Homo sapiens: one gene and its partners. The protein of the gene in region 2 interacts with the protein of the main gene of each other region in a pairwise test. Each region holds a gene or a part of one and is shown on either strand. Other genes may lie near its edges. The genes, in order: H4C5, KMT5A and H4C9.

Region 1 (2,445 bases), on a different chromosome or scaffold from region 2:
AGGTAGGCCAGGCAATTTCTTTACTGCCAGTTTTTACACAAAAAGGCAGAAGGAAAGTTGGATTCATATTTTTTAGGTTTTATGGCTAGCTTTGAGTCTAGCTTTGGTTTATATGTTCCATCTTGGGAAGGAAGCAGTCTAGTTCCTATAGCTAGCTTCGGGGAAGAATGGGAGGGAGAAAGAGGAAGGTAGGAGAAGGAGAAAAAGTTACTACGGAGGCCTTCATTTTGTAGCATTGTTTTCTGAGTCCCAACACCTTTTATTTTAAAAGCCTGTAGGAAGTCGCCTATTTAATAACTTGGCCCATTACACGTTGCCAATTCTCTTGTGATAAAGGCTGCTACCAGCATCAAAGAGAACAGAAAACTAACAATAGAGAAGTAAACATTAACACACCAGTGAGTTTCTAGGTTTAGATGTGCGAGTTGGCTAGATATTTAAATGATAATTATAAATTTTAATAAACAGGGAAGAAAGAAAAATAAGCCAAAAATGTAATACGGGCGTCCACAGCGAGGACCAGAATTCATGGGATCAAAAATTTTTTTTTCTTTTCTTTGAGACGGAGTTCCGCTCTTGTTGCACAGGCTGGAGTGCAATGGTGTGATCCGGGCTCACCGCAACCTCTGCCTCCTGGGTTCAAATGATTCTCCTACCTCAGCCTCCTAAGTAGTTGGGATTACAGGTATGCGCCACCAGGCCCGGCTAATTTTGTATTCTTAGTAGAGATGCGGTTTTTCCGTGTTGGAGACTGGTATTGAACTCCCGACCTCAGGTGATCCGCCCGCCTCAGCCTCCCAAAGTGCTGGGATTACAGGCGTGAGCCACAACGCCCGGCGGGATCACTAATTATCCGTGTTTTTCTCTTCGGGAGGAAAATCCTTTTGGTCAGATTTCCCTTGGCTTGGTGGTGGAGAGGGTGAGATCTTGCAGTTTTCAAACACTTCCTAAGGGGGTTCCGTCCCCAAGAGAGCAAGCAGCAGAAATGCCAGAGGAACCGTGCCTATGGGGACAAAGCTGAACTCCTCATGGAAGGAGATTACTGCAGTTCCGGTCTTGTGAGCCAAAGCTCCTGTTCAATCGTCCTAGAGCATCCCAAGCAGCAAATGATTTTAAACATGTTAATGTATTTAATCTCATTTAGTTGTTAAAATATGCCTAAATTTCCTCTTTGGGAACGCAAGACTTGCAGAGATGACTCCATGGAGAGCGGACTCTGCCGGCGGGAACTGGAGTCGTTGGTGACGTCATCCCAGTCTGATCTGTGAAGGGTAGGGCCAGCAGGCAGCACCAAAGTTCCCGTATGCGCGTTTTCAGTCTTCATTTAGGTCCGAATTCCCGGCATATAAGAATACTACCGTCGCTTGTTTTTCAGATTTTTGCGGCTATTTTCGTTGGTGTGTTGGTCATGTCTGGTCGCGGCAAAGGCGGAAAGGGACTGGGTAAAGGAGGCGCTAAGCGTCACCGTAAGGTCCTGCGAGATAACATCCAGGGCATTACCAAGCCTGCCATCCGGCGCCTTGCTCGTCGCGGGGGTGTCAAGCGCATTTCTGGTCTCATCTACGAGGAGACTCGCGGGGTTCTGAAGGTGTTTCTGGAAAACGTGATTCGTGATGCTGTGACTTACACGGAGCACGCCAAACGCAAGACAGTGACAGCGATGGATGTGGTCTACGCGCTGAAGAGACAGGGACGCACTCTTTACGGCTTCGGCGGCTAATGCTACCGCTTAAACGACTCAGCATCTCGACTTCCCAAATCAAAGGCCCTTTTCAGGGCCGCCCACAGTTTTCCGCAAAAGAGCTCATGACTTGTTAGACGATTGGTTGGTCTCTTTATAAGTTAATTGTTCCTGTCAACAGGTACGTATATTTTTCAGCCGTTTTTTTTTTTTCGTTCCAAATTACATTTGGGGTTTCGGCATACGATTTTTTAGGCTACGATCCTTTTATGTTTATTGTAGTAGGGCCTTAGATTGCACTGAAAAGGCTAGGGTAATAGTGTCTGTTTACCTTACCACTTTTATTTTGAGTACCTAAAAATGCATGGTTTTCGACATAAGTGGGAAAACCGCAAGACACTGCGTAACCGCTCAAAATGGCGGAGAGCGAAGAACAAAGCCGGTGCCTGGCAATGGGCCGGACCCGCGAATTAGCGCAACCAATCATCTTCCTGGAAAGGAGTGTGGGCCTTAAATTCTAGCGGCCTGTTTTCTATTACTTAACCTAACGACCGAGTTTAGGTGTGTAGAAGTTCCTGGGGTAGATAAGCTCACGCAAGGAGAGGTTGCAAGCATTCATTTCGGAATTCTATTAAGCCAACCCAGTTGTCCCTTAGAAGTTATGATATTTGCTGTTTTTTGAATAAAAGAATTTGACTCTCTTTAAACCCTAAAGCTTGAAATTTAGCATTTATCTCACATGAGACAAATGTTTAGGAACTCAT
Region 2 (3,660 bases):
ACACGTGGTTGTGCCTCTTTAAGCCTCAGTTTCCTCATCTACAAAATGGGGCAGTCTCCACCTAGCAGATCTCTCACGAGCTCTGATGTAACTGCTTTGCAGATGAGCACCAAGGAACCACGTTTGTGGAGTGAGGGAACGTTCTAGAGCTGGCCTGTAGTGACGGTTGCACAGCTGTATACACTTCATAAAACCCATCAGCCTGTACATGTAAAGTGAGTGAATTTTATGACATGGCTCAGTACAGCTGTTAAAGACTGGGGTAAGCCCCAGCTCCCCGGAGACCTGCTGTGCACAGTGGCATCCATTGCTATTATGAACCAACACCCTCTCTTATCACCTGACAGATTGACCTCATCGATGGCAAAGGCAGGGGTGTGATTGCCACCAAGCAGTTCTCCCGGGGTGACTTTGTGGTGGAATACCACGGGGACCTCATCGAGATCACCGACGCCAAGAAACGGGAGGCTCTGTACGCACAGGACCCTTCCACGGGCTGCTACATGTACTATTTTCAGTATCTGAGCAAAACCTACTGGTGAGTCCACTGTTGCTTAGAGTGGCTTTTCTGTCCTCTGGGCAGTGAGGAGAGGCCAAAGGGCCAGGAACTCCTGATTCTGTTTGGTGGCCAGTCTTTTGGTTTTGTTGTTGTTGACTTTTTTTTTTTTATTTTTTGAGATGGAGTCTTGCTCTGTTGCCCAGGCTGGAGTGCAGTGGTGTGATCTCGGCTCATTGCAACCTCCTCTCAGGCTCAAAGAATTCTCCTCCCTCAGCCTCCAGAGTAGCCCAGCTAATTTTTTTTTTCTGTATTTTTAGTAGAGGTGGAGTTTTGCCACATTGGCCAAGCTGGTCTTGAACTCCTGACCTCAGACGATCCACCCGCCTTGGCCTTCCAAAGTGCTAGGATTACAGGTGTGAGCCACTGCGCTCGGGCTGTTGTTGCCTTTTTTCAAAGCTGTGATGCAATTATCGCCTGCTTCCTTTTTTTTTTTTTTTTTTTTTTTTTTGAATCTCGATCTGTCGCCCAAGCTGGAGTGCAGTGGCACAATCTTGGCTCACTGCAACCTCCACCTCCCGGGTTCAAGGTATTCTGTCTCAGCCTCCCACGTAACTGGGATTACAGGTGTGCGTCACCACGCCCAGCTAATTCTTATATATTTTTTTAGTAGAGACAGGGTTTCATTATGTTGGCCAGGCTGGTCTGACCTCATATGGTCTGCCTGCCTTAGCCTCCCAAAGTTCTGGGATTACAGATGTGAGCCACTGCGCCTGGCCCCAGCTTCCCTTTTTTTTTTTCTTTTGAGACGGAGTCTCGTTCTGTCACCCAGGCTGGAGTGCAGTGGTGCAATCTTGGCTTACTGCAACCTCCACCTCCCAGGTTCAAGCGATTCTCCTGCCTCAGCCTCCTGAGTAGCTGGGACTACACACACATGCCACCATGCCTGGCTAATTTTTTGTATTTTTAGTAGAGATGGAGTTTCACTGTGTTAGCCAGGATGGTCTCAATCTCCTAACCTTGTGACCTGCCCACCTTGGCCTCCCAAAGTGCTGGGATTACAGGCATGAGCCACTGTGGCCCCAGCTTCCCATTTTTAATCTTTGGAATTGGAGCTGTCCTGGATGTTATCTCATCCAAGGGGAGAAGTGGGCTAGTCACATGAAAACCTGTTAAGCAGCTCACCTGGCTCTCCTTCAGGGCATTTGGCCAGAGCAGCTCTGGAAATCACTAATTGATCTTGCCTGGCTAGGACCAGTGGAGTTGAATTTTTTATTTTTTATTTTATTTTATTTTTTTGAGATGGAGTTTCACTCTTGTTGTCCAGGCAGGAGTGCAGTGGCACGATCTTGGCTCACTGCAACTTCCACTTCCGAAGTTTAAGCAATTCTCCTGCCTCAGCCTCCCAAGTAACTGGGATTACAGGCATGCGCCACCACGCCCAGCTAATTTTGTATTTTTAGCACAGACAGCGTTTCACCATGGTGGCCAGGCTGGTTTTGAAATCCTGACCTCAGGTAATCCACCCGCCTCAGCCTCCGAAAGTGCTGGGATTACAGGCGTGAGCCACCGCGCCTGGCGGGGTTGATTTTTTTAATCCATTTATTTTGTGAAACTCTACCATTTCCTCCTGTGCCTCCATAAAGAGCCCTTTGGGTCCTACCCCATCCCCCCACCCAGGGCCTGTGCAGGCTCTCAAAAATAGCTTTGTGGGCCAGGCGTGGTAGCTCATGCCTGTGATCCCAGCACTTTGGGTGGCCGAGGTGGATGGATCATGAAGGTCAGGAGCTCCAGACCAACATGGCAAAACCCCATCTCTACTAAAAATACAAAAAAATTAGCCTGGCATGGTGGCACACGCTTCTAATCCCAGTGACTCAGGAGGCTGAGGCAGAATTGCCTTACCCCGGGAGGCAGAGGTTGCAGTGAGCTGAGATCGTGCCACTGCACTCCAGCCTGGGCGACAGAGCGACGAGACTCCCTCTCAAAAAAAAAAAAAAAAAAAAAAAAGCTTTGCAAATTGAGCCAGACCTGGTGGCTCGTGCTTGTAATCTCAAAAACTCAGGAGGCCAAGGCCAGAGGATCACTTGAGCCCAGGGGTTGGAGACCAGCCTGAGCAATATAGGGAGATCTTGTCTCTACAGAAACAATTAAAAATTAGCCTGATGTGGTGGCATGTACCTGTGGTCAAAGCTACTCGGGAGGCTGAGGTAGGAGGATGACTTGAGCCCGGGAGGTGGAGGCTGCAGTGAGCCGTGATCGTGCCACTGCACTCCAGCCTGGGTTACGGAGCGAGACCCCCTCTAAAAAGGAAAAAGAAAATAGCTTTATGAATTGAATCTTTTCAAAACACATGGCTTTAAATCAGCATCCCACCAGAGCTGAGCACAAGTGTGACTCTCTTCAGGTTGAAAAGCCTCTTTATCCATTTAATCCTCTCTGGCCCTCCTTCCCCTCCAGCGTGGATGCAACTAGAGAGACAAATCGCCTAGGAAGACTGATCAATCACAGCAAATGTGGGAACTGCCAAACCAAACTGCACGACATCGACGGCGTACCTCACCTCATCCTCATCGCCTCCCGAGACATCGCGGCTGGGGAGGAGCTCCTGTATGACTATGGGGACCGCAGCAAGGCTTCCATTGAAGCCCACCCGTGGCTGAAGCATTAACCGGTGGGCCCCGTGCCCTCCCCGCCCCACTTTCCCTTCTTCAAAGGACAAAGTGCCCTCAAAGGGAATTGAATTTTTTTTTTACACACTTAATCTTAGCGGATTACTTCAGATGTTTTTAAAAAGTATATTAAGATGCCTTTTCACTGTAGTATTTAAATATCTGTTACAGGTTTCCAAGGTGGACTTGAACAGATGGCCTTATATTACCAAAACTTTTATATTCTAGTTGTTTTTGTACTTTTTTTGCATACAAGCCGAACGTTTGTGCTTCCCGTGCATGCAGTCAAAGACTCAGCACAGGTTTTAGAGGAAATAGTCAAACATGAACTAGGAAGCCAGGTGAGTCTCCTTTCTCCAGTGGAAGAGCCGGGACCTTCCCCCTGCACCCCCGACATCCAGGGACGGGGTGTGAGGAAGACGCTGCCTCCCAATGGCCTGGACGGGATGTTTCCAAGCTCTTGTTCCCCTAACGTCTCAACAGGCGCTCACT
Region 3 (2,327 bases), on a different chromosome or scaffold from region 2:
ATTAAAATAAAGAGTAGCAAGAAAATCACCAAATGGGCCGGGTGCGGTGGCTCATATATTCAGTATATGATAATAAGTTCCTCAAATCAGTGGGGGAAATAGTTAATGTATTGTGCTGACTAACCAACTGATTAACTTTTTGAAAAGTTATTTCTATATACAAGAAATCAAGTCCTTATTAGTAAAGTTAGATTACTTTAAATGGTTCTACCCAGCATTAGTTAAGGTTGTAGGCATATCAGGAACTGCTACTGGTGCAGGGGCCAAGAGAAAACCTCCCTTTTGGCCTCTGAAAGTTCACTGAAAATCAACTGACAAGATTAATAAGAGAAAAGGCATACAAATTTATTAAGGTACAGGGCTGAGGACCACAGAATATTACCCCAACCCCCCAGTGGGGTACAGAAGCTTATATACTCTTTCTCAGAGGCAAAAGAGGAGATGGGTAATGTAGACAATTCTTTGAGGAACAGTAAATGATTATTAGAGAGAAGGAATGGACCAAGGAGACAGAAATTAACTTGTAAATGATTCTCTTTGGAATCTGAATGAGATCAAGAGGCCAGCTTTAGCTTGTGGAAAAGTCCATCTAGGTATGGTTGCATTCTCGTCTTCTTTTCTGCAGTAGATAATGAGGTAACCGAAGGCAATTGTGCTTCTTTTGATAAGAAGCTTTCTTGGTCATATCAGGAAATTCCAGAGAAAGTCCCTCCCTGTATTTGGGGAAGAGAAACAGGACAAAGTTAGAGGGACCTTGATTCTTAGACTTGTTTCTGAGAACCCTCAATTTTCAAAAACACCCACCATTACCAAGCTCGATATTTGGGGGGATAATTCTCCACCCCAAACACTAGAAATGAAAATAAGTAGAAAAGAACTTAGCAATATACCTGAACGATCTTTAAATTCTATGAGTCTATCTTGTTCTATTGCTAGGAATTTAGCATATGGAGTATATTTCCATTGTATATTAAGGAGAAAAATGCCACAAAATAGCATAGTTCCATACAAATAATGTTAAAGGAAAACATGCATATATGCAGAGATAACATTCTTTTTGCTTTATGTATCTTCTATAATGTTAACATTTTTGTTATGAGGCAGGAATCATGTTAAATGAAAAAAGGAAAAACAGCCTAGGTCTTGAGGATTAAAAAGGACTGAAGGAGAACAAGAGGGAGTAGAGCACAGCAGGCCTGTTTCCCTTTTAGGTCCCCTCCCCCAATGCAGAGGGACTTCCCGCCAAAGCTCTTCCGGTTTTCAGTCTGGTCCGCAGAGGTTACCCATAAAAGAAAGCTGCCATCACAGGCAGCAGACCTTTGTTCTCTGACCACTTGATAATGTCAGGACGCGGCAAAGGAGGTAAGGGCCTGGGGAAAGGGGGTGCCAAGCGCCACCGCAAGGTGCTGCGCGACAACATCCAGGGTATCACCAAGCCAGCCATTCGGCGCCTTGCTCGCCGCGGCGGCGTGAAGCGCATTTCTGGCCTCATCTATGAGGAGACCCGCGGAGTGTTGAAGGTGTTCCTGGAGAACGTGATCCGGGACGCCGTGACCTACACGGAGCACGCCAAGCGCAAGACGGTCACCGCCATGGACGTGGTCTACGCGCTCAAGCGCCAGGGCCGCACCCTCTATGGCTTCGGCGGCTAAATGGCATTTTGAAGCCCAGTCATTCTCTAAAAAGGCCCTTTTTAGGGCCCCTAAGCTTTCAACAAAAGAGTTGAAATGACTGCAAACTGAGTCTCTTAATAGGGCCATTGTCAGTGAGTTCTGTCATCCTATTTTACAAGATTAACTCGACGCCGAAAATGGGCTGATGACTACAGGTGACCTTGGGCCGAGATTTTTCCAAGGCCAGAAGAGCCTCTGCTGGCCAGTAACTTCTGGCGGCTGCCTGGAAATTGCCTGCAGCCGGTTTACCGCTCGGATTAGTTTAGAAAGCCAAGGGGTCTGCGGTCCAAATAGGGGCGGGCTAGATAATTAACTTCCCTCTGGACCTTCAAATACGTCTCAGGAGATAATGAGTTTGATGGGCTCCACTAAATGCTAGAACCTCCAGGAAAACTTCGTGGTGGCTGGTTTAAGAGGACTTGGCGGGCACAGAGCTCTGCATGGGGGGGAGGGGGACAGACCATGCTTTTACTACTGTAGAACAGTAGGGCAGTCTTAAGAGTCTTAGTAATAATATTCCTTTATATGTTTGCCTTTTAAATACTGGAATATATCAAGTATACAAAATGCGCTGGTGACCACACCACTTATTCAAGTGCATCTAAAATCCTTATGTCCCTTTCTCAGTAGCACAGCCCTCCCTTTTTCCTATCT

Evidence for each region.
Region 1: the proteins of KMT5A (region 2) and H4C5 interact in binary tests that used the Homo sapiens proteins (3 or more experiments, as listed by UniProt).
Region 3: the proteins of KMT5A (region 2) and H4C9 interact in binary tests that used the Homo sapiens proteins (3 or more experiments, as listed by UniProt).

The regions. Positions count from the first base shown.
Region 1 is NC_000006.12:26,203,237-26,205,681, forward strand, and holds H4C5 (histone H4), read left to right. Parts: upstream 1-1,373; 5' UTR 1,374-1,408; coding exon 1,409-1,720; 3' UTR 1,721-1,785; downstream 1,786-2,445. UniProt on the Homo sapiens protein: Core component of nucleosome. Nucleosomes wrap and compact DNA into chromatin, limiting DNA accessibility to the cellular machineries which require DNA as a template.
Region 2 is NC_000012.12:123,404,537-123,408,196, forward strand, and holds part of KMT5A (N-lysine methyltransferase KMT5A), read left to right. Parts: intron 1-102; exon of another isoform or gene 103-215; intron 216-347; coding exon 348-538; intron 539-2,956; coding exon 2,957-3,167; 3' UTR 3,168-3,660. UniProt on the Homo sapiens protein: Protein-lysine N-methyltransferase that monomethylates both histones and non-histone proteins. Specifically monomethylates 'Lys-20' of histone H4 (H4K20me1).
Region 3 is NC_000006.12:27,137,969-27,140,295, forward strand, and holds H4C9 (histone H4), read left to right. Parts: upstream 1-1,313; 5' UTR 1,314-1,340; coding exon 1,341-1,652; 3' UTR 1,653-1,710; downstream 1,711-2,327. UniProt on the Homo sapiens protein: Core component of nucleosome. Nucleosomes wrap and compact DNA into chromatin, limiting DNA accessibility to the cellular machineries which require DNA as a template.